Homo sapiens: one gene and its partners. The protein of the gene in region 1 interacts with the protein of each later gene in a pairwise test. Each region holds a gene or a part of one and is shown on either strand. Other genes may lie near its edges.

Region 1 (3,500 bases):
CTCCTGTTGCAGAAGTTTGTCTTAGCACTAACCCTGGATATAATGTCCAGATGGGTGAAAAACAGAAACAAACATTTCATTTAAAGTTGTGAGATTATTACTTGGCCACTTCAGTGATTTATGAGTCATCCTGGATGAAGTGCTTTCTTAAGCCTAAGTCAACCCTCGATGACTATTTTATTTTTTGAGATGGAGTTTCACTCTGTCGCCAGGCTGGAGTGCAGTGGCCTGATCTTGATTCACTACAACCTCCGCCTCCGGAGTTCAAGTGATTCTCCTGCCTCAGCCTGCCGAGTAGCTGGGACTATGGGCACATGCCACCACGCCCAGCTAATTTTTGTATTTTTGGTAGGGACGGGCTTTCACCATGTTGGCCAGGATGGTTTTGATCTGTTGACCTTGTGATCCGCCTGCCTTGGCCTCCCAAGGGGAGTAATCCCTTGGCCTGTAATCCTGGGATTACAGGCGTGAGCAACTGCACCCAGCCTATTTTTTAATAGTATTCTTGCATATATAATGTTAAAATAGAGGATGAAGAGTATCAGTAATTAGAAATATGTTTATGTATGCATTTCAATATTTTAAATTGCCTAGGTGTTTTTTTTTTTCCTTGGAAGTTTACATTTTCTTGGGCTTGATAGGTGCTTTGAAAGTACTTGCTGAATTTATTCAGTGGAAACCTGTGAAATTGGGAAGGGAGCTAAGTTGAGCCAGTTATCTGATGGACATTTAGGGACCCTGAGGACTAGAGAATAGTGCCTTATGTCATTGTGTGTGTGTCTCATAGTGCTTTGCATATTGCTGATACCCAGTAGACATTCGTTACTTGATTGGAGCTAGAGTTTTTGCCACTAAATTTTGCTTGGTTGCTTCTCATTTCAGACAGTGCCAGTGGCATATACTTTTCTTGTTTTTCAGCTGCTCCTGCTAAGGCCAAGCCGGCTGAAGCTCCTGCTGCTGCAGCCCCAAAAGCAGAACCTACAGCAGCGGCAGTTCCTCCCCCTGCAGCACCCATACCCACTCAGATGCCACCGGTGCCCTCGCCCTCACAGCCTCCTTCTGGCAAACCTGGTAGGCTTCCAACTCCCACATGTCATGTGGGAGAACATCTCGTCTAATATGTTCCTTCAAAGGGTAAACTCTAGACTGATGATGGTTCTGAACAGGCCAGGTTGGCTGCTTTGTAGAAAGAATTCTAGACTTTGTATCCAAAGGCCTGCTTTGCATCTCAGCTTTCTGTTACTAGCTGTGTGTCTTTAGGCTAGTCACTTAATTTATCTGAACAGATTGTTCATCTGTGAAGTTGGAGTGATACTAATATACCTCAGAATATCTTGAAGATTAAGTAACAGTACATATGAAAGCACTGGCACAAACTCAGCAGATGTTTCTTTCCTTGTCTGATGCAGCTTTATCCTCTTTTCATTTTCAGTGTCTGCAGTAAAACCCACTGTTGCCCCACCACTAGCTGAGCCAGGAGCTGGCAAAGGTCTGCGTTCAGAACATCGGGTAAGCCTCTGAGGACCACTTTCAGGAAAGAGGCAGGGGGCAGTGTTGAGATTAGTGGAGTATGGGTGTGGTGATGCCTACCTTTGAATGCCTGGCAGCTCATTCCCTCAACCTTGATAAAGGGAGTTTAGGATATAACTTCTTCATAGTCACATAACCATCAAATGATAGGACTAGAACCTGAGGTCTTCTGAACACTTGTTCAGTGGTTTTCCTACTATATTATGCTACCAGTGAAAGCCTTGGGTAAGTTAAATATTTGTAGGGGTGGTAGCTTAGTAACTCACCCCCGTCCTCCCACGATGTCACACGCTTCAGAGAGGTGGTTTAGTGAGCTCTATTCCTATACTTCTGGGATACTTAGCTGTAGCTAAGGGATAATACTCAGTAGCAATAGCTGTCAGGTGCAGACATAAAGCCTCAAGGAAGTATGGTCAGGATTGTGGTTCCTCTGCCTGAGAATACTTCCTAAAAATATGATAGCCTCGAAAGTTTGTTGCTCATGAGGTTCTGTTCCACAAATAGCTATTCTTATGCAAATCTTTATCAACAGAAAGTGCCCTTTTTCTTATGATTCTTATGTTGGCTAGACTACACTACACTACATTCTTTTATAAATGGGTTTTGGTTTTTAAATCACTGTTTCTGAGCCTTCATTCTTGGTCAAGCTTTAGGCACATCTGAGTGAGTAGTTTTGGCCTGTGTTTGCATGTTTTTGCTTGGAGGAGAAAGGGCCACCACAGGAAAGGGAAGCCTGGAGCTCGTGTACTTAGATACTGTAGTCCTTGGCCATCTACTCGTGGCAAGCCGTGTTCTTTCTGACTACACGGGGAATGCTTGACCCAGAGAGATCAGATTGTCAATGCTTGTTCCACTCTTACTTTCAGGAGAAAATGAACAGGATGCGGCAGCGCATTGCTCAGCGTCTGAAGGAGGCCCAGAATACATGTGCAATGCTGACAACTTTTAATGAGATTGACATGAGGTAGTGTCTCTAGTCCCTCTTATCCCCTAGGCCCCTTTTTCTTAGAGAACACGAACTTGCCCCACTCCTTATCTAGTGCTGATTCTAAAACTAACTTGTCAGGGAAGAGGTATTTGTTTATTGTTTTTTGTTTGTTTGTTTTTGTTTTTGTTTTTTGAGATGGAGTCTCGCTGTCTCCCAGGCTGGAGTGCAGTGGCATGATCTCGGCTCACTGCAAGCTCCGCCTCCCGGGTTCACGCCATTCTCCTGCCTCAGCCTCCAGAGTAGCTGGGAATACAGGCGCCCCCCACCACGCCTGGCTAATTTTTTGTATTTTTTTAGTGGAGACGGGGTTTCACCGTGTTAGCCAGGATGGTCTCGATCTCCTGACCTCGTGATCTGCCCTTCTCGGCCTCCCAAAGTGCTGGGATTACAGGCGTGAGCCACCGCGCCTGGCCTGTTTATTGTTAACTTTCACAGAGTGAGCCGCTGGCTTCTTCTCTAATTGGCTTTCCTAATACTATGCCTGCCTCCTCCATGACCTTAACCTTAGCCTTGGCTAGGTGTAGTGGCTCACACCTGTAATCCTGGCACTTTGGGAGGCCGAGGCAGGCGGATTGCTTGAGTCCAGGAGTTCAAGACCAGCTGGGTAACAAGGCGAAACCCCACCTCTACAAAAAATACAAAAATTAGCCAGGTGTGGTGGTGCACATCTGTAGCCCCAGCTACTTGGGGGGCTGAGATGGGAGGATTGTTTGACCCCGTCACTTACATATTTTCCTAAGTGATTCAGAATCGAGTGGATGAAAAGGCAAAGATAGGCTGGGCTTGTCTTTCATTTTACCCAGCTCTGACAGTGAAATGGAAAACAAGTTGTGTTTTTAAATAACCTTAGAATGTTAACCAAAGGTACTAATTCACTAGGTATGCCCATTTCTGTAGTGAGCTAATTGTTGACTTACCTGTTTTCTTCAAGATTTCAATGTGTTCAAGTATCAGCACTGTCAGGAAGAGAAATTTGACAAAC
Region 2 (3,500 bases), on another chromosome or scaffold:
GATGTGGCATAGACCTTGTCTCTTTTATTCCCTGCAGCACTCCCTGATGGGGGCGGCAGAAAAGTAACGAGCAAATACATCTATAACTGCAAATTGTGGTAACTCCTACATAAACAACTGGCAGCAATTGCTTATATTTGAGGCACTTAAAAATTTTTAAGCTGGCTGGGCGCGGTGGCTCATGCCTGTAATCCCAGCACTTTGGGAGGCCGAGGCGGGCAGATCACGAGGTCAGGAGATCGAGACCATCCTGGCTAACACGGTGAAACCTGTCTCTACTAAAAATACAAAAAATTAGCCGAGCGTGGTAGCAGGCGCCTGTAGTCCCAGCTACTTGGGAGGCTGAGGCAGGAGAATGGTGTGAACCCGGGAGGCGGAGCTTGCAGTGAGCCGAGATTGCACCACTGCACTCCAGCCTGGGTGAAGGAGCGAGACTGTCTCAAAAAAAAAAAAAAAAAAAAAAAAAGAAATTTTTTTAAGCTGCTGGGCGCGGTGGCTCACGCCTGTAAATCTCAGCACTTTGGGAGGCCGAGGTGAGCGGATCACCTGAGGTCGGGAGTTCGAGACCGGAACATGGTGAAACCCTGTCTCTACTAAAAATACAAAATTAGCGGGGCGTGGTGGCTCATGCCTGTAATCCCAGCTACTTGGGAGGCTGAGGCAGGAGAATCGCTTGAACCCAGGAGGCAGAGGTTGCAGTGAGCCGAGATCGCGCCATTGTACTCCAGCCTGGGCAAAAAGAGTGAACTCCATTTCAAAAAAAAAAAAAAAGGCCAGGCGCAGTGGCTCACGCCTGTAATCCCAGCACTTTGGGAGGCCGAGGCAGGCGGATCACGAGTTCAGGAGATTGAGACCATCCTGGCTAACACGGTGAAACCCTATCTCTACTAAAAATACAAAAAATTAGCCGGGTGTGGTGGCGGGCGCCTGTGGTCCCAGCTACTCGGGAGGCTGAGGCAGGAGAATGGTGTGAACCCAGGAGGTGGAGCTTGCAGTGAGCCGAGATTGCACCACAGCACTCCAGCTTTGGTGACAGAGCGAAACTCCGTCTCAAAAAAAAAAAAAAAAAAAATTTAAGCTTAGAGGCCGGCCACAGTGGCTCAGCACTGTGCAGGCCAAGGCAAGAGGATCACTTGAGGTCAAGAGTTCGAGACCAGCCTGGCCAACATGGTGAAACCCTGTCTCTACTAAAAAATACAAAAATTGGCCAGGCGCGTTGGCTGGCGCCTGTAATCCTAGCAACTTGGGAGACCAAGGCAGGCAGATCACCTGGGGTCAGGAGTTCAGGACCGGCCTGGCCAACATTAAAACATATAAAACCCCGTCTCTACTAAAAATATAAAAATTATCCAGGCATGGTGGCGTGTACCCGTAATCCCAGCTACTCGGGAGGCTGAGGTAGGAGAATTGCTTAAACCCGAGAAGCAGAGGTTGCAGTGAACCGAGATTACGCCACTGCACTCCAGCCTGGGCAACAGAGCGAGACTCTTTCTCAAAAACAACAACAACAACAAACAAACAAATTAGCCAGGCATGATGGTGGGCACGTGTAATCCCAGCTACTCGGGAGGCTGAGGCAGGAGAATTGCTTGAATGTGGGAGATGGAGGCTGCAGTGAGCCGAGATCACACCACTGCACTCCAGCCTGGGCGACAGGGAGACTCTGTCTCAAAAAAAAAAAAAAAAAAAAAAGTTTATAAGGCTGAATTACCGTACTGTCAAAACAAGCTGCTATCTGAGCCGTTTTAAGGGTGAGGAAGTCTGGAAACTGATAACTTGCCCAGGACACACAGTGAGTTCAAGGCATGGAACTCAGTCTCCTATCTTAAGAATGTATGTGGGCCGGGCATGGTGGCTCACGCCTGTAATCCCAGCGCTTTGGGAGGCCAAGGCAGGCAGATCATCTGAGGTCAGGAGTTCAAGACCAGCCTGACCAACATGGAGAAACCCTGTCTCTACTAAAAATACAAAATTAACCAGGTGTGGTGGTGCATGTCTGTAATTCCAGCTACTCAGGAGGCTGAGGCAGAAGAATCACTTGAACCCGGAAGGCAGAGGTTGCGATGAGCCGAGATTGTGCCATTGTACTCCAGCCTGGGCAACAAGAGTCTGGAACTCTGTCTCAAAAAAGAAAAAAAGAATGTATGTGTAGCAGGCTTTTTTTTTTTTTTTTTCCCCCGAGACGGAATCTGGCTCTGTCGCCCAGGCTGGAGTGCAGTGGCGCAATCTTGGCTCACTGCAAGCTCCGCCTCCCAGGTTCACGCCATTCTCCTGCCTCAGCCTCCCGAGTAGCTGGGACTACAGGCACCCGCCAGTACGCCGGGCTAATTTTTTGTATTTTTAGTAGAGACGGGGTTTCACCGTGTTAGCCAGGATGGTCTTGATCTCCTGACCTCGTGATCCACCCGCCTCGGCCTCCCAAAGTGCTGGGATTACAGGCGTGAGCCACCGTGCCCGGCCTATGTGTAGCAGGCTTTAATGGTGGGCCTGCAGCCATGTCATGGAAAGAAGCTGACCTGAAGATCTCAGTTCTTTCTTCTTCTACTAACTAGCAAGCATACCTCAGTTTCTTCTTTAAAGCGGGATGATCCGATTATTATCATGTTGGGGTTCACTTTTTATTTTTTCAGTGTGTCCCAAAGCAGCAGCACGTTTAGGTATAGCCCTCTTGCTATCAGCTTGAGGGCCTTAGAGCCAGGAAGGGAGCCAGGACATTTATAGGCACAGAAACTAGGGTCACATACAGATCCCCCCACCGCATGTGCTAGGGGTACATGCAGACCTTCCCAGTGCTGACCAACCTGCAGAGAAGAAATGGGCCCTAGGTATTCTGGATCTGATTCTTTTTGGTCTTCAATTATTTTTATTTTTATTTTTTTAGAGACAGGGTCTCGCTGTGTTGCCCAGGCTGGCCTCGAACAGCTGGGCTCAAGCGATCCTCCTGCCCTAGCTTCTTGAGTAGCTGGTGGTCATCAATTCATTTTTAGCAAATTCTGCAGAATTTTTTTTTTTTTTTTTTTTTTTGAGACGGAGTCTCACTCTGCCGCCCAGGCTGGAGTGCAGTGGCGTGATCTCGGCTCACTACAACCTCCGCCTCTTGGGTTCAAGCAATTCTCTGTCTCAGCTTCCTGAATAGCTGGGACTGCAGGCGCCCGCCACCATGCTTGGCTAATTTTTTTGTATTTTCAGTAGAGACGGGGTTTCACCATCTTGGCCAAGTTGGTATTGAACTCCTGACCTCGTGATCCATCCGCCTCGGCCTCCCAACGTGCTGGGGTTACAGGCGTGAGCCACCGCGCCCGGGTTCTGCAGGAATTTTGGAGAGACTCAGGCAGTAATAAAATAGGATGTTTACAGAAATTAAAGATGGCGGCCGGGCGCGGTGGCTCACGCCTGTAATCCCAGCACTTTGGGAGGCCGAGGCGGGCGCATCACGAGGTCAGTAAATCGAGACCATCCTGGCTAACCCCGTGAAACCCCGTCTCTACTAAAATACAAAA
Region 3 (4,011 bases), on another chromosome or scaffold:
CTGTGTGAAGGCATAACATACATGATTAAGTGGTTACTGAGAGAGAGTTAACAGAATATGGAGATATTCTGACATAAGACAGAAAAAAATTACAAAGTACTGTCCTGGGCCGGGCATGGTGGCTCACGCCTGTAATCCCAGCACTTTGGGAGGCCGAGGCGGGTGGATCACAAGGTCAGGAGATCGAGACCATCCTGGCTAACACGGTGAAACCCTGTCTCTACTTAAAATACAAAAAAAATAATTAGCCGGGAATGATGGCGGGCGCCTGTAATCCCAGCTACTCGGGAGGCTGAGGCAGGAGAATGGCGTGAACCCAGGAGGCAGAGCTTACAGTGAGAAGAGATCGCACCACTGCACTCCAGCCTGGGCGACAGAGCGAGACTCCATCTCAAAAAAAAAAAGTTCCTGGACCCACCTCTCAAACTACCCATTTCCCAATAAGATGTGACCTCCAAAGGGGCTTAACAGATTTAAAAACATCAAATAACACAATCAGGGAGGGAAAGACAAAACGTATTTATTCCAGGCCAGGTCTTAAAATGCACACTGCACGGTTCCCTGTTGTTATCAGCACCAGTAAGGAAAGAACGTGCCTTAACGGCAGCCCCACCCAGAGCCTGCTGCGTGGCTGCTGTGAGGCTCCCCATGAATCCACGCAGTCTTCTTCCTCACTGGTGCAGTTGGTGAGGTTTTCTACCCTCACAGCAAAGGGATCCTTAACTATAAATTCACGGTATGCAGAGAAGAGGACAGAATCTGATTTACTGATTGTTCCTCATTTAAACCATGACTTAATCTCTATCTTAGGATTTAACTATCTTTATTTTCTGGTTAAAATTTTTAAAAAAAGTGGGGAGAGGGTGAGAGTCGTAAGGGGCAATAGCAATAGAGATTACACTGTGCTGACACAGAGACTAAATTCTAGTCAGAGTGAAGACCCATATAAAAGGCCGGCTGATGGTTTAAAGGAAGTAACTACATGGAGTCTAATCGAGACATTCATGAGTTACATCTCATTATTAGCCTTAGTAATGTAAGAAAACAATTCTCAACAAAACTGGAGTCCACAGTTGTCAAGTATGCTTTCTCAGGCACGGGTAGGTAAAAGTCTGGAGAAATGGGTTCTCTCCATGCCCAATGACAAAGCAAGACGGTCCTAGGTTTGAGGTTAAGAGCAGGTCCCATTGCCGGGCGGTATCCGCAGCTCACAGCTGAGTTTAGCAGTGGAATCGAGTGGAGAATTTGGGAGATACAGGCACAGTCAGAGGCTGGTCACTTGACTTTATCTCCAGACCCTGGTACTTGCGTATTGGATTTGCCTTATGCACCTGCAAAGTAAGGAAAAGTTACCAGTGAGAGGGATGTCAGAGAACTACGCTTATAATTGCTTTTATTTTTTTCTTTTTGAGAAAATGTTTGTAGAGTTTTACAGGTCCCAGTCACTAGTTTCAGGTGTGGGGAGTGGGGCCTGGGGGGCAACACGGTATGATGGAAAAGTGTATGTGCTTTGGAGCCCAAAAGGGTTTCTATTCAGGTCTCTATTGGGTCCCCCAGCTTTCCTTTAGGCCACAGTCTCCTCAAGTCCCTCAGCTTTCACTAAAGAATGCCAAACCTATGTCCTGTGTGATTTACTAGGGTATAATAGGGCTGTACTCAAGTATAGCAGAGAAGTTACAAGCTAAGAATTTCCCAGAGTACAGTCTTAAGTTTACTGACTATAAATATTCACCAAAAGCCTGAATCCTGGGGAAAAAGCAAAAACAAAACACAACAACCATACCAGGAAGGGTGGCTAAAGAAGGCATGGTCCCATCCATCCTTTAGGGTAGTCTAAAATCAATCCTAAATCAAGCCAGATTAGTAGAGAGTTAACCAGCATTGACTGAATTGTGCTTTACAATGTTGCCATCAGTTATGTTGAGAATTGCTGCAAGAAGCAGTTCTATAATGGGGACAAACACAAGAGGCAGGTACCAAATGCTAAAGAAAAATCAAAGTTGAGGCCGGGAAAAAAGGCTGATTGTATGAGTGTATATAGAGTGGGGATTATACTATTTTCTCATTCACTCAGCAAATGGTAGTCTAGATTTTACCAAGAGGCTGGTCTCCTAAATAGTGTGTCCGTGGAACCTTCCTATGGGCATAATCACCTATGCCAATAGCTGCCAATAGCTGTTTCAACTGCTAGTCTAGCATTTTATTTATTTATTTAAAATAGAGATGGGACTTTGCTATGTTGCCCACGCTTTTCTTGAACTCCTGGGCTCACGCAATCCTCCCACCTTGGCCTCCCAAAGTGTGAGGATTACAGGTGTGAGCTGCCACATCCAGCTGTAGTATAGCACTTTTAGACAAAACCTCAACAACTTACACTTCTTTTTTTTTTTTTTTTTTTTTTTTGAGACAGTCTCGCTCTGTCACCCCCAGGCTGGACTGCAGTGGCACAATCGGCTCACTGCAACCTGGGCCTCCCAGGTTCAAGCAATTCTCCTGCCTCAGCCTCCCGAGTAGCTGGGATTACAGGTGCGTGCCACCATGCCCGGCTAATTTTTGTATTTTTAGTAGAGACAGAGTTTCGCCATTTTGGCCAGGCTGGTCTCCAACTCCTGACCTCAAGTGATCCACCCACCTGGGCCTCCCATAGTGCTGGGATTACAGGTGTGAGCCACCATTCCTGGCCTTCTTTCTTTTTAATTGACAGATAACACTGTATATTTTTATTGTGTACCGCTGATGTTTTAAAGTAGACATACATTATGGAATGGTTACTATGTGAGATAATGCATTTGTTAATTAGCAAGATGCTAATTAACATTGTAGTGTGAGCACATAACATCCACTTATTGTAGTGTGAGCACATAACATCCACTTTCTTTACAGTTTTCAAGAATACAATATATCATTAACTACAGTCACCTTGTTATATGATAGATCTCTTGAAATTTACTCCTCCCATCTAACTGTAACTAAGTAACCTTTTACCAACATCTCCCCATGACCCTTTCTTTTTTTATTTATCATACGAAGTTCCATCTAAAACTGTCTGCTTCTTCATTAACACAGTTAACACAACTTGCTGCCCTCCTAGCAGATTGGTCCTTAATGTGGAGTTCAGGTTTCTTTTTGGATAACCAACATCTAAATAATTATGTTAGTAGAGGATTACCTGGAGCGACGAACACTGTAACTCCAAGGAGTTTGGGCTCAGTATTAAAACAAAAATACAGTTGCCATTTAATTCCCATGTCCTTCGCTATGTATTCTTGTCTAATTACAAAACTCAGTGGTGCTTCTTAACCCCAGAGGAAATAATAAGTTACATAAATAAAATAAACAAATAAATAAAAAACAGTCCTAGGAAAGGCATCATGGTTATACCACATGTTGTCCTCCTTATGAAAACTTCCGGAAGAAATTCTGTCTAAAAATTCACTATCAAAGGGATAAATGTATTTTTTGAACAACTGTCTTATGTCTCATGAACACTGCGAGTTTTGTAACTGACAGGTTGGTTCCTAAAAAGGGCCAAAATTACAGCTCCTACTTAGATCACAATGTACACATCGTTAGCTTCATTCACAACTCAACTTCATCACCACCCTCAGTTTGTGCAATTCCCCCTTTCACTCATTGTCTTTGGTACAGCCTTGCGGGCTACCTTAGATCCTGTCTGGTACAAGGTAAGGTACAGGTAAAATAAAACAGAGGCATGTTTGTGTTCGTCAGTGCTCATGCTCCCAGTTACCAGTTCTCTCCGTAGCCTGGCCAGCTCCTCTTTTTTCTGCTCTTCCTCCTGTAGTCTGGCCTCCTCCAACTGCTGGGCTTTCTGGGCTTCTACCTCAGCCATTCTCTTCTCCAGCTCCTGCCGCTCTTTGGCTCTCTTCTCAGTAGCCAGCTGAAAAGGTTCCTGAACTAGAGAACCAGAAAGGCCCTCTAAGTACAGAAACAGAAAAAATATTGGTGCACAAGCAGGACTTGCATAAACCTACGCCCCCTGGAATGAGCAAG
Region 4 (3,500 bases), on another chromosome or scaffold:
CTCTGACCAATCAGCACTCCTGGTTCCCTGGCATCCCCCAACCCACCAAGTTGTCCCTAAAAACTCTGCTCCCTGAATGCACGAATGCTCTGGGAGACTGATTTGAGTAATAACAAAACTCTGGTCTCCTACACAGCCTGCTCTGCGTGAATTACTCTTTCTCTATTGCAATTCCCCAGTCTTGAATCAGCTCTGTCTAGGCAGCTGGCAAGGTGAACCCCTTGGGTGGTTACAATCTGGGCACACTGCCTATGGGGTAGCCCTGCTCCACAAGGAGCAGTCCATCTGCTGCTGCCGTACGCTGCCACTTCAAGTAAAGTTGCCTCTAACACCACCAGCTTGCCCTTGAATTCTTTCCTGGAAAAAGCCACGAATCCTCACTGGCAAAGCCCTGATTTTGGGGCCTGCCCCTGCATCAAGAGCAACAAAATTGATAAACCTCTAACCAGATTGATCAGGAGCAAAAGAGAGAACACACAAACTACCAATATTAAGAATGAATGGGGTAATGTCACTAAAGACTTTAACATATTAGAAGGAAAATAAGGAGCTATTTTGAACACTTTCATAACAATAAATTTGAAAACAAATGAAATGGACAAATTTCTTGAAAGATACAAACACCAAACCTCACTCAAAAACAGCTTGAGTCTTCCTATTGAATTTGTACCTTAAAATCCTTCCACAAAGAAAATTCCAGCCCCAGATGGCTTCACTTGTGAAGTCCAGCAAACGTACAAAGGAAATCATGCCAATTCTACAGAAACTCATCCAGAAAACTGAAGAAAAGGGAAACTTCCCAACTCATTCCATGAGGCCAGCATTACTGTGATACCAAAACCTGGCAAATATATTCTAAGAAAACTACAGAACAATATCTCTCTTCAACAAAGATACAGAAATTCTAAGCAAAATTTTCAGTTCAACACCAATAATATATAAAAGATTTAACCATCACAATGAAATGAGGTTTATCCCAGGAAAACCATGGTTAGTCTAACATTCAAAATCAATCCAAGTAACTTACCATGTAGATAAACTAAAAAAGAAAAATCATAATAATCTCAATAGACTCAGAAAAAGTATTTGACAAAAATCTAGCATCTATTTCTGAAAAAACTCTCAGCAAACTAGGACTGGAGAAAAACTTCCTTTATTTGATAATGGGAACCAATAAGAGAAACCTGTGGCTAATACTATACTTAATGGTATCAGACTAAATGCTCTCCGTAAGATCAGGAATAAACAGGTTTGCTTTCATCACTTCTGTTTAACATTTACTGATGATTCCAGCCAGTGTGATAAGGGAAGAAAAGCATCCAGATGGGAAAAGAAGTAAAACTGTTTTTATTCACAGATAACATAATTATCTGTATAAACATTGATGGAATCCACGCAAAGGCTATTAGGGCAAATAAGTGAATTTGGGAAGATTTCAGGATAGAAGATCAATATGTAAAAATCAACTGCATTTCTATTCACTAACAAAGAATAGTCAGAAGGTGAAATTTAAAAAAATCATAGCATCAAAAAGCGAAATATTTAGGAATAAATCTGACAAAAGATGTGCAAGAACTGTACACTGAAACCTACAAAATGTTGCTGATAGAAATTTTAAAAGACTTAAATAACTGAAGAGAGATACCATGGTTCATGGGTGAAAAATTCAATATTGTTAAGAAAACGGTTCTCTCTCAATTGATCTATGGATCCAGTATAATCTCAACCACAATCTTCTTTTTGGGGCCCGGGACAGTGGTTCAAGCCTGTAATCCCAGCACTTTTGGAGGCCAAGGTGGGTGGCTTGCTTGAGACCAACCTGGGCAACATTGCAAAACCCATTTTTTGTCTCTATAAAAAATACAAAAATTAGCTGGGCATAGTGGCACATGCCTGCAGTCTGTAGTCCCAGCTACTCGGGAGGCTGAGGTGGAAGAATTGCTTGAGTCCAGAGGTTGCAGTGAGCCGTGATTGCATCACTGCACTCCAGCCTGGTCAACAAAGGAAGACCCTGTCTCAAAAATAAAAATCTTCTTTTGGGGTGATGAAAAAATTCTGGAATTAGATAGTGGTGATAGTTGCACAATCTTGTAAATATACTAAAAGCCACTAACTTGTGCACTTTAGTGGATTTATGTTATGTCAATTACACCTCAATTTTAAAAAGGGGGGAACACAATCAGTCTAATTTACCACTTAATAGAAGAAAAAATTATGATCATTTAATAGATGAAAAAAACATTTGATATAAACAAATTTTGTTTGATTAAAAAAAAACCTGCTAGTGAACTGAGAAAGAAATCCCTTAGTTAAATAAAGGGTAGCTAGCTATAAAAACCCTACAGTCAAGATAAACATCACACAAATAGTGAAATGTTATGATACTAAGGCGTTACTTGTGAATCAGGACTGAGACAAGGATGTTCAGAATCCCCACTTCAATTTGACATTATACTGGATGTACTAACCAGAGAAATAAAACAAGAAAAAGAAATGAAAAAGTATAAGGATTAAAAATGAAGAAACAAAACGGCCATCATTCAGCTATAGAACTGATTGTATATGCAGAAAACCCCAAAGTCTTTACAGATTAATTTTTAAAATGAATAAGCAGGTTTAAAACTTACTGGATATGTGAACAGTTTGCAAAAAGCAATTGCTTTTTTTTTTTTTTTTTGAGACAGAGTCTTGCTTTGTCGCCCAGGCTGGAGTGCAGTGACGCAATATAGGCTCACTACAACCTCCGCCTCCCAGATTCAAGCAATTCTTCTGCCTCAGCCTCCCAAGTAGCTGGGATTACAGGTGCCCACCACCACACTTGGCTATTTTTTGTATTTTTAGTAGAGACGGGGTTTCACCATGTTGGCCAGGCTGGTCTTGAATTCCTGACTTCAAATGATCCACCCTCCTCAGCCTCCCAAAGTGCTGGGATTACAGGTGTGAGCCCCCACACTCAGCCAAAAATCAATTGCATTAAATAAAACCACAGTGCAATACCATTACATGTCCACTACAATAGCTAAAATGGAAAAGAAAGTATCCAGTATTGGCAAGGATGTGGATGGAGCTCTGAGAACCCTCATACATTGCTGGTGGGAGTGTAAATGGATGCAATCACTTGAGAAATCGGGCAGTATCTACTAAAACTGAGTATGTGCCCACCCTGTGACTCAGCGATTCCACCCCTCAGTAGTTACCCAACAGAAATGTGTGTATGTGTTCACTGAAATATATGTATACAAATATTCATGGCGGCATTATTCAAAATAGTCCCAAACTGGACACAGTCTCAATGTGCAACTGTAGAAAGGACAAATAAGTTCTGGTGTATTCAAATAATGGAAAGTAATAAAAAATGAAAATGAACAAACCACACAAAAAACCACAATGAATTTCATAAACATAATGAGTGAAGGAATCCAAGAGTAAGAGTATTGAATCACTGTGTGATTCAACTGATGTAAACTCCAAAAACAGATGAAACTAATGGATGTCGTTAG
Region 5 (3,500 bases), on another chromosome or scaffold:
TTCATTTGAGCAGTCGGCCATCAATACCCCTGGACAGTCTGCTTTCCCTGCTTCTCTACGGCCTTGCGGGGACCTTTCATTTAAAAATCAAAATGGAGAGGTTTTAGTTAATTTGAGGGTTCACGTATGAAGGAATGGAAGAAACTAAAAAGTGGTGACAGTTTTCTGGGGTGCTGACTTCAGGCAGGGAGTTACTGTACTTAAGACCAGGGCAGTTCTTCTGAGGGAACAGAAGTTGGTGTGCACTCCGTCCCCCACTCCACACAGTGTGGTACCAACATCAGCGAAGGTGTTGGGGCGGCAGGGTCTTAGAATCCCTGTAATGGGGGAGCTGAGAAGTAAGAGTACCTTCAAGAGAAATGCTTGCCGAATCAGACCTAAGGAGGGTATGTGTTAAATATTTTCCTCCTCTCCTGAGCCACAGAACACAAGCAAATTAGGCTTTTCAATAACACGGTTTCCATGGGAAAATGCTTTATGGGCCCCCTGGGAACTGACAGACTTATTTGTCCATAAACTGGGAACTACTGTGCTAAGCATTTACTTGCAATTTGTGGGTTTCTGTTTAAATTAAGTTCTCTTTCTGTCTGTGAGATTGATTTCTTATTTGAAGAAGTAAGCTATGTTGGTGGGTTTCAGAATGTTGATTTTTTTTTTAAAAAGTGGCAGTTGGGGTTCACTGGCGAGGGCTCTGGAGTTGGCCTGGCTGGGTTGGAAGGGGCTTCCGCTGTGGCCTTGGGCAGATTGATTCCCTAAACCCCAGCATCCATGTCTGTGCAGTGCTGGGCTTTCATGGGACCTGCTGCCGATGCTGCATTGCATGTCATGCTTTGCGCCTGCTGACTCGGTTTTTGTTTCCACGTGTTCCTCTGTTCTGCACGGAAGCTGTGTGTTGCTCGTTCACATGCAGATTGTTGATTGTCTCTTTGTAATCACTATCATTAAAGATGACAGATTTCCACTTGGTGTGATATGAGGAAATCAGAGTATTTAAGATGTAACCAGTCTACTCCCCCCTTGATAATTGTAATTGACAAAATCACATCTAAGAGATCATTTCTGTCATTTTTTTCCCTAGGAGTACGTTTAAATTTTTTCTTTATAAAAGGGTAGCTAATTGTGCTACATCAACCTGCTAATTGGTGTTTTTGTAAAGCTTCTACTTTTTGGCACTGACATAAATAGAATTTTTTAAAAATTGGATATATGTAATTAATAATGTTCCAATTCTTACCTCATTATGTGCCCTAGCATTGAAGGATTTCACTCATGGATCACTTGACTGCATGATCTTATAGATGGAAAAATGAATTTTAGAGGCTTATTTTAAAAATAATCCATGGTCTAGCTTCATGTATCAGGAATAGCCCTACATTAATGGTACCAGGAGCCTGGGCCTCTGTTGCTGAAAGGTCCTGGACCTTTTACCTCTAAAATTTCATGATACTTATTTTAACATGAAAAGCCTTTATTGAATTGTGCATTCTTTAATCCCCACCCCTTTTGCCTTTCAGCATTAAACTGAAGAAAAGATGTCCCTGTACGATGACCTAGGAGTGGAGACCAGTGACTCAAAAACAGAAGGCTGGTCCAAAAACTTCAAACTTCTGCAGTCTCAGCTTCAGGTGAAGAAGGCAGCTCTCACTCAGGCAAAGGTAAAGACAAGCCCAGAGCATGAGAGCAGAGGCCTCCAGAGTGGGTTCCTCATTAGGATGACAAGGAATTTGGTTTCAGCTTGCTCTTCTGCCTTTGTATTGGGTAAATGGTGTTAAGCATTTGTAGGGGGAGAGGAATGAGGAGTTTAAGGCCACTTTGCTACTCCTGGCTCCTGGGAATAGGAACATTTCGTGGGGTAGGAATGAAGAAAAACAGTACTCTGCGGGGGCTGGGCGCAGTGGCTCACGCCTGTAATCCCAGCATTTTGGGAGGCCAAGGCAGGCAGATCACGAGGTCAGGAGATCCAGACCATCCTGGCTAACAAGGTGAAACACCGCGGGCGCAGTGGTGGGCACCTGTACTGCCAGCTACTCGGGAGGCTGAGGCAGGAGAATGGCGTGAACCCGGGAGGCAGAGCTTGCAGTGAGCCGAGATCGCGCCACTGCGCTCCAGCCTGAGCGACAGAGCAAGACTCCGATTCAAAAACAAACAAACAAACAAACAAAAAAACAGTACTCTGAACCAGCAGTGACACTGCTTTTCAAACTTAAGTAGTGGAGGTCTAAGATTGAGTGAGAACTTGTTTAAGGTGCTAATTTTGTAGCCTTACTCCTGATATTCTGGTAAACTGTAGTTCAGGCTGGAGCCCCAGGAGTGGGAATTTTTAAGTAGCATTCCTACTGGTTTGGTGGAGGTAGTTTGGAAGCAGCACTTTGGGAAGAAGCTCCACAGAATACCTAAGCTGCTGCGTGCAACTTATTGAGGGCTCAGGTTGATTGTGAAGGCGTCAGGCATAGGTAGTCTGGATGCTGATTGCTTTTGTTTCTGTTGTGTACATGTTGGGTATTGGCAATGTCCTTGAAATAACATGTAAAACATTAAAAACCTAGTTGTCGACTGGATATTTGCCATTAAAATGTAGGCATGAGAATGGTATTATGGTTTGTTTACTACTTTAGAGATCTTTATGTTCTAGAGTATGCATTCGTAATGGAGGCTATATCCCCCCAAACAGAGCGAATATTGGTCTTTTTGGGGGTGAAAAAACCTTGCTCGTGTTGTGCACAGTGTATCTGTGGTGTGAAAATTTCATGTGCGGGAGAAAATTTAGTCAAAGGCTCCTTGCTGGGGAGGCAGTAATTAAAGTTGAGAAAAAGTACTTTAGAGATGTGTACTGAAATATTTACCGATAAGATGATGTCATTTTTGGGATTTACTTCTAAACAATTCAGTCCCGGGCAGGGGAGGGAGGGAAGAACAGAACTACCCATGAGTTGATAATTGTTGAAACTGGATGTGGATAGTAGAGACTTAAGAATTAATATTAATCTCTAATTTCATGTTTGAAAATTTCCGTAATACACAGGTTTTTTGTTTTTTTTTTTTTTTTTTTTTTTTTTTTTTGAGACGTAGTCTCACTTTGTAGCCCAGGCTGGAGCGCAGTGGCATGATCTCAGCTCACTGCAAGCTCCGCCTCCCAGGTTCACGCCATTCTCCTGTCTCAGCCTCCTGAGTAACTGGGACTACAGGCGCCCACCACTGCGCCTGCGGTGTTTCACCTTGTAAGCCAGGATGGTCTCGATTTCCTGACCTCGTGATCCGCCTGCCTTGGTCTCCCAAAGTGCTGGGATTACAGGCGTGAGCCACCGTGTCCGGCCAATACACAGGTTTTTTTTCTTAAAAGTTCTACTCATTTTTCTTTTCCCTTTACCACATCAATAGATACTTACATGGAAGTGCTTACATTTGATTGTTCAGTATTGTAGAGAGGTTTTTTTGTGTTTTTAAAATTCATCATTACCAAATTTAGATTTTTTGGATGCCAGTATTTTGTGTTTTTTTTA
Region 6 (3,500 bases), on another chromosome or scaffold:
GGGTGGCTGGGGGTCCAGCCCTGGGGTCGCGGGCACACCTGGGCATACCTCAGGACGACCTGCACGGCTTTAACTCCGGGCTGCAGTTCCCTGTGGGTGTGGAGCAAACCAGAGGAAAGGAAAGGAGAGCTGAGTGAGGAGGGCGTGACCCCAGCCCACCCGACAAGGTGGAGACCGCCACACCACAAGGCTCCCTCCCCCAGAGCTGGGAAACTGAGGCCCAGGACTCTTTTGTACGGGCTGGGTGAGAGGAGTGGCTGTGAGGTCAGGAGAGGGGCTGGCCTCCCTGGAAAATGCAACAGAATCCACAGCAAAACCCTGAACCAGAGAGGGCAGCCAGGTGCCTCTCCCTGCGAAGAAACATAGCTAAAACGTGCATGCGGGAATCTAGCAGCTGGCTCACAATGGCAAGAAAACACCCAGTTTGGGAGGTCAAGGCTGGCGGAGCTCTTGAGCCCAGGAATTTGAGACGAGCCTGCGCAACATGGTGAAACTGTCTCCACAAAAAATTACCCAGGCGTGGTGGTGCACACCTGTGGTCCCAGCTGCTTGGAGGCTGAGGCAGGGGGATCGTCTGAACCCATGGAGGCACAGGCTGCAAGCTATGATTGCACCACTGCACTCCAGCCTGGGTAACAAAGAGAAACACTCTCCAAAAAAAAAAAAACAAAAACCAGTAACACCTGAGGATAAACTTTAACAAGAAACGCCCCCAGAAGAAGAGGAAAAAGTCTATCTACCCAAAGACGCATCCGTGGATGTTCACAGCAGAACTGACCACAACAGCCACAAACTAGCAGCATCCTGAGTGTCCTTCCGTAGACCGAAGGACCAACACGCACGGGACGCGACCCAGCCATGGAAAGGAGCCAGGCTCAGACCCAGGCCTCAGCACAGGTGCACCGTGAGGATGTCCCACCCAGTGAGAGACGCCAGACACGAAAGGACACACAAGGCAGGTGGCTCACGCCAGTAACCCTGGCACTTTGGGAGGCGGAGGTGGGTGGGTCACTTGAGGTCAGGAGTTCGAGACAAGCCTGGGCAATATGGTGAAACCTCGTCTCTACTAAAAATACAAAAATTAGGCCAGGTGCAGTGGCTCACGCCTGTAATCCCAGCACTTTGGGAGGCCGAGGCGGGCGGATAACAAGGTCAGGAGATCGAGACCCTCCTGGCTATCATGGTGAAACCCCGTCTCTACTAAAAATACAAAAAAAAAAATCAGCCAGGCGTGGTGGCGGGTGCCTGTAGTCCCAGCTACTTGGGAGGCTGAGGCAGGAGAATGGCGTGAACCCAGGAGGCAGAGCTTGCAGTGAGCCAAGATCGTGCCACTGCACTCCAGCCTGGGCCTCGGAGTGTGACTCTGTCTCAAAAAAAATACAAATATTAGCTGAGTGTGGTGGTGCACGCCTGTAATCCTAGCTAGTCAGAAGTCTGGGGCAAGAGAATCACTTGAACCTGGGAGGCGGAGATTGCAGTGAACTGAGATCGCGACACTGCACTCCAGCCTGGGCGACAGAGTGAGATTCTGTCTTAAATAATAATAATAAACGAAAGCCACATAGTATGTGATTCCACTTCTATGAAATGTCCAGGACAGACCCATTTACAGACAGGAGGGGATGCGTGGGGGCCAGTGGATGAAGGGTGGCAGCTGCTGGGGATGGACATGACTGCCCTGAGACTAGGCAGTGGTGGGAGCTGCGATACCTACTGATCCACGAGAACCCACTCGATGACACCCTTAAAAACTGTATATTCTATGGTATGCAAATCATATCTCGACATAAGAAAAAGAAATGTGGGATGGGCAGGGTGGCTCACGCCTGTAATCCCAGCACTTTGGGAGGCAGATGTGGGGTGGATCACGAGGTCAAGAGATTGAGATCATCTTGGCCAACATGGTGAAACCCTGTCTCTACTAAAAATACAAAAATTAGCCAGGCGTGGTGGTGCGCACCTGTAGTCCCAGCTACTCGGGAGGCTGAGTCAGGAGAATCGCTTGAACCTGGGAGGCAGAAGTTGCAGTGAGCCGACATCACGCCACTGCACTCCAGCCTGGCGACAGAGCGACTTCATTTCAAAAAAAAAAAAGAAAAAGAAAAAGAAATGTCCAGAAGCTTTCTGAGGAGAAAACCAAACTTTTTTTTTTTTTTTTTTTTGAGACGGAGTCTCCCTTTGTTGCCCAGGCTGGAGTGCAGTGGCAGGATCTCGGCTCACTGCAAGCTCCGCCTCCCGGGTTCACGCCATTCTCCTGCCTCAGCCTCCCGAGTAGCTGGGACTACAGGCGCCCGTCACCACACCCGGCTAATTTTTTTGTATGTTTGGTAGAGACGGGGTTTCACTGTGTTAGCCAAGATGGTCTCGATCTTCTGACCTCGTGATCCACCTGCCTTGGCCTCCCAAAGGGCTGCGATTACAGTTGTGAGCCACCGTGCCCAGCCCAAACTGATTTTTTTATACTGTGTGGCTGGCTCTGAGCACTCTGCAGCAGGGACCCAGTGCAGGTGGAGGCTGTGCTGACCCAGGTACATAGACAAGGAAGACGAGGCTGAGAAAGACGAGGTCGCCACCTTGGGTCACCCAGGCAGAGAGGCCTCCATGGCCAAGCCTGGCTCGGCTGGATCTGAACCCTTACTAGGTGTGAGGGCCAGGCTGGGAGGCCCCAGGAACCTGGCCCCACAGCAGGTGGGGGCGGTGGGTCTGAAGCGGCTGGGCACGAGAAGCTAGGCATTAAATGGGGGCGCCCGGCCCAGCCCTGCCATGGACTCAGGGGTGACCTGGGCAAATGGCCTCCCCTGTCCTAAGGGCCCAGCACCTACCATTAGCCTGCCCAGCAGGAATCTGTCTCAGCTGGAGGCAGTACAGCCTCGGAGAGACTGAGGGAGGAGCAGAGCGCAGGGCAGCCACACTGGCCCCTCACCTGCCACAGTTCAACCGTCCTCATCTGAGGACGACCCTGCCCCAGGCGACACCGAGCTGTGTCTGGGGACATCTGTGGTTGTCAGAGTTAGGGGTGTTCCTGGCACAGAGCAGGTGGAGGCCAGGGATGCTGCTCAGCAGCCTGCAGTGCCCAGGACGGCCCCACCGAGGGAACCATCCCACCTCACTATCCACGGTATGGAGGGGGAAACCCCGTATTCATTATATAACTGGGAAAAAACCTGACTTCCGCCAGGCGCAGTGGCTCACGCCTGTAATCCCAGCATTCTGGGAGGCTGAGGTGGGTGAATCACCTGAGTCAGGAATTCGAGACCAGCCTGATCAACATGGCAAAACCCTATCTCTACTAAAAATACAAGATTAGCCGGGCGTGGTAGTGAGCGCCTGTAATCCCAGCTACTTGGGAGGCTGAGGCAGGAGAATTGCTTGAATCCAGCAGGTGGAGGTTGCAGGAAGCCAAAATCGCGCCACTGCACTCCAGCCTGGAAGCCTGGATAACAAGAGCTACACTCAGTCTCAAAAAAAAAAAACAAAAAAACACCTGACTTAACTTCCTG
Region 7 (3,500 bases), on another chromosome or scaffold:
AATACATATATATCATATTCTTCCACGTTAATAGCTACACACCTGCAGCCTATGTTTTTGTAGCCACTTGGTATTCCAAAGTATAGACATGCCATGGTTAACTAATGTATGACTGTTGGTCTCCATTTGTCACTATGGAGTGTTATCATTATTATAAATAATGCTGCGAGGGACATCCCCATACACATACTTTTCTGCATTTATCCAATTACATCCCTAGGGGCAGAATTCCTAGGGGTGGAACTGCTGAGTCAGGGACTTGTTTGGGAGGGTTGTCAACAGAGCATTAAGAGTAAAATTACACCAAGATGATGAATTCTGTCATAGAAAGTTCTCTTTCTCCACACAGACTTTTCTCCAAACCTCCTTCCAAAAACAGCCAGGTGTTAAACATTTACCAGGACGTCACTGGTCACAACCTAGGAATGCAAACCATGAGCAGACTCTACTTGGGTGTCTATAACTTTGCATAGTGATTCAGAAAGGAAGGGACCATCCGTTCCAAAAAAAACCAGTCCCTCCCTCCCCACCTCTCCAGGCCTCCTCTGGAGACACACCATGCCGGAGTCCTGAGGTGACACTGATATACAAGACAGGCAGGATTATACTGGGTTAATGTCCACTGAATTCCCAGGAGGAAGGACTCTAGGAGGGGCCAGTGCTGGGTGTCTCATGGTGGGTGGCACACATGTAGTCCACAGGAAAGGTTTTTTGTCATTAAAGGTTTTGTTCTTGTATAGACAGAAGGACAAGGCAATGACTCTTCTGAAAGAGATCAAGGGTTAGAAGGGACATATGGAATCATTTAATCCCTTGCCTTGGAGATGGGGAAACTGAGAACCAGAGTCTCACAGCATAAACATTTCAATAATCATTAGCCAGACGCAGTGGCTCATGCCTGTAATCCCAGCATTTTGGGAGGCTGAGACAGGTGGATCACTTGAGGTCAGGAGTTCAAGACCAGCCTGGCCAACATGGTGAAACCCCATATCTACTAAAAATACAAAAATTAGCTGGGCATGGTGGCATGCACCTGTAGTCCCAGCTACTTGGGAGGCTGAGGCAGGAGAATCGCTTGAACTTGGGAGGTAGAGGTTGTAGTGAGCCAAGATCGTGCCACTGCATTCCAGCCTAGGCAACAGAGTGAGACTCCAACTCAAAAAAAAAAACACAATAATAATCATAATCACTAAATGCACCCCAGAAGTGTCTCGCATGCAGGTGAGGTTCAACCGGTTTGGGGCAGCGCTTGAACATATCCCATGACTTGGATGCCTAATACAAATCTTATCCTCCCCTCCGCATGTACAGAATTGGAAATTAAAATCACTGGGGTCACATGCTGACTTAGTCATGGCCCGATGTGTGCTGGGGCCAGATCCTACTGGCTCCCAAGTGCCAATGGCGCACAACTCTTCCCAACTGAGTGTTCACTGATACCAGGTTGGTAGAGTGAAGTCAGCCATAGTGGGAATATTTATTTATATCATATAAACTGGAAAACACCACAAAGCAGGGCTTCCCCCAAAGCCCCTACCAAGAGCCGGGTGTTAAATATTCACCAGCACGTCGCTGGTCACAACCTAGGAATACAAACCATGTGCAGGTGACCTCAGTTTCCTCACCTAACCTAAGAGCAGCCTCTCTCCAAAGCACTGTAACTCTCTATGTTCCACCATAATACACACTCTGAAATCCATCATAGCCTGCTTCTAGCCAGCAAATGGTTTTCTACATGCTTGCTATGTGCCAGGCTAAGCACATGATAGCCCATTTGACCCTCACAATATTGCTGTGAGATACTTATTATAATTCCCATCTTACAGTTGTGGAAACTGAGTCTTTTCTTTTCTTTTTTCTTTCTTTTTTTTGAGAGGAAGTTTTGTTCTTGTTGCCAAGGCTGGAGCACAATGGCGAGATCTCAGCTCACTGCAACCTCCGCCTTCCAGGTTCAAGCGATTCTCCTGCCTCAGGCTCCTGAGTAGGTGGGATTACAGGCGCCCGCCACCATGCCCGGATAATTTTCGTATTTTCAGTAGAGACGGGGTTTCACCATGTTGGTCAGGCTGGTCTTGAACTCCTGACCTCAGGTGATCCACCCACCTCGGCCTCCCAAAGTGCTGGGATTACAGGCATGAGCCACTGCGCCCAGCCTGAAACTGAGACTTTTAATGACTTTTAACTATAAGTTAAAGCCTGTCTTAGGTTGGTTTCACCCAAAAGTAGATCGTGAAACAAGAATTCAAGTTCAAGTACAAAGGGAGTGTACAAAGTACAAAGTACACTCCCTTTGTACTTGAAATGTACTTGAGATGAGGAAGTGAGCAAGCTAACACTATGAGCAATTGAGATTCGGTCCTGCAAGGGAATTCTTAGAGACAGCACAGAACATGCCCCAAACTTATCTCAAAAGAGAGGCGAGGAAGCTGGAGTATTTGCACACCTTCTCCCATCAGTCATTGGTTGAGACCAGTGGAACATGGGCAGGAGACTGACAGCATCTATTACATTATTCAGTATCCCACAGCTAGGAAATGGTAAGATGCAATTCAAACTCCAAATCCAATACTCTTTCATGACATTTATAAAAATGAGCAGTTAATCACACTTCACTGAATGCCAACTACGGTTAAAGCACCGTGCTGATGAAGGAAATCTACTTTGCCAAATCACTTTGGGTCGACATGTTCAAAGAAAGCACAGGTATTTCTCTGCCAATTTTCACCAATTGAAGGAACAGGAAAGGGCCTTGGAAGTCATTTTGCCCGTTCCACAGGAATGGATGAGAGGGTCCCTCTCTGGTTCTGCCACAGCTGCCTTGAGCAGCAGCAGTTCCCCAGCCCCAAGCTGTCACCGCAAACAGCAGCATCAACCTGTGATGACAGACTTTAGAGTCTGCCATCCCAGAAGTGATAAAAAATGACCCACTGGCTGCATAGCCCAAGTCAGAGGATGTGCCACCCTCCTTCCCTGGTGCCTCCTGCCCCATTCACCAACCCCCGCCTCACACGGCCATGTGGTCCACAGTAACCAACAAGCAGGCCAAATAAATGAAACCAGCCGTGAGACCTGTGGGAGCTCACTCCACCTTGAGGACATTTATACATTCTTCTGGGCCAGGCACAGTGGCTCATACCTATAATCCTAGCACTTTGGGAGGCTGAGGCAGGAGGATGGCTTGAGGCCAGGTGTTTGAGACCAGCCTGGATAACATAGCGAGACTTCATCTCTATAAAAAAATAAAAATAAAAATTTAGCTGGGTGTGGTGGCATATGCCTGGGGTCTCAGCTCCTCAAGAGGCTGAGGTGGGAGGATCGCTTGGGCCCAGGAGGTTGAGGCTGCATGAGCCATGATTGCACCACTGCACTCCAGCCTGGGCGACAGAGAGAGACCCTATGTCAAAAAATAATAATAATAATAAATATAAATAAAAAATAAAACTTCTTCTTGGAGACAGGGAAGTGTTTAAATAGGACAGTGTGTCATTACAGTAAACAAC

What was found.
Region 2: the proteins of DLST (region 1) and MAVS interact in binary tests that used the Homo sapiens proteins (3 or more experiments, as listed by UniProt).
Region 3: the proteins of DLST (region 1) and TPX2 interact in binary tests that used the Homo sapiens proteins (3 or more experiments, as listed by UniProt).
Region 4: the proteins of DLST (region 1) and DRC7 interact in binary tests that used the Homo sapiens proteins (3 or more experiments, as listed by UniProt).
Region 5: the proteins of DLST (region 1) and RBM17 interact in binary tests that used the Homo sapiens proteins (3 or more experiments, as listed by UniProt).
Region 6: the proteins of DLST (region 1) and PIAS4 interact in binary tests that used the Homo sapiens proteins (3 or more experiments, as listed by UniProt).
Region 7: the proteins of DLST (region 1) and RASSF2 interact in binary tests that used the Homo sapiens proteins (3 or more experiments, as listed by UniProt).

Annotation. Positions count from the first base shown.
Region 1 is NC_000014.9:74,891,916-74,895,415, forward strand, and holds part of DLST (dihydrolipoyllysine-residue succinyltransferase component of 2-oxoglutarate dehydrogenase complex, mitochondrial isoform 1 precursor), read left to right. Parts: exon of another isoform or gene 1-143; intron 144-918; coding exon 919-1,071; intron 1,072-1,432; coding exon 1,433-1,509; intron 1,510-2,396; coding exon 2,397-2,494; intron 2,495-3,500. UniProt on the Homo sapiens protein: Dihydrolipoamide succinyltransferase (E2) component of the 2-oxoglutarate dehydrogenase complex. The 2-oxoglutarate dehydrogenase complex catalyzes the overall conversion of 2-oxoglutarate to succinyl-CoA and CO(2).
Region 2 is NC_000020.11:3,849,834-3,853,333, forward strand, and holds part of MAVS (mitochondrial antiviral-signaling protein), read left to right. Parts: intron 1-3,500.
Region 3 is NC_000020.11:31,798,290-31,802,300, reverse strand, and holds the end of TPX2 (targeting protein for Xklp2), read right to left. Parts: intron 3,937-4,011; coding exon 3,749-3,936; intron 1,332-3,748; coding exon 1,221-1,331; 3' UTR 501-1,220; downstream 1-500. UniProt on the Homo sapiens protein: Spindle assembly factor required for normal assembly of mitotic spindles. Required for normal assembly of microtubules during apoptosis. Required for chromatin and/or kinetochore dependent microtubule nucleation.
Region 4 is NC_000016.10:57,708,306-57,711,805, reverse strand, and holds part of DRC7 (dynein regulatory complex subunit 7), read right to left. Parts: intron 1-3,500. UniProt on the Homo sapiens protein: Component of the nexin-dynein regulatory complex (N-DRC) a key regulator of ciliary/flagellar motility which maintains the alignment and integrity of the distal axoneme and regulates microtubule sliding in motile axonemes.
Region 5 is NC_000010.11:6,095,534-6,099,033, forward strand, and holds part of RBM17 (splicing factor 45), read left to right. Parts: intron 1-1,514; 5' UTR 1,515-1,532; coding exon 1,533-1,655; intron 1,656-3,500. UniProt on the Homo sapiens protein: Splice factor that binds to the single-stranded 3'AG at the exon/intron border and promotes its utilization in the second catalytic step. Involved in the regulation of alternative splicing and the utilization of cryptic splice sites.
Region 6 is NC_000019.10:4,024,736-4,028,235, reverse strand, and holds part of PIAS4 (E3 SUMO-protein ligase PIAS4), read right to left. Parts: intron 91-3,500; coding exon 49-90; exon of another isoform or gene 47-48; coding exon of another isoform or gene 39-46; intron 1-38.
Region 7 is NC_000020.11:4,817,109-4,820,608, forward strand, and holds part of RASSF2 (ras association domain-containing protein 2), read right to left. Parts: intron 1-3,500. UniProt on the Homo sapiens protein: Potential tumor suppressor. Acts as a KRAS-specific effector protein. May promote apoptosis and cell cycle arrest. Stabilizes STK3/MST2 by protecting it from proteasomal degradation.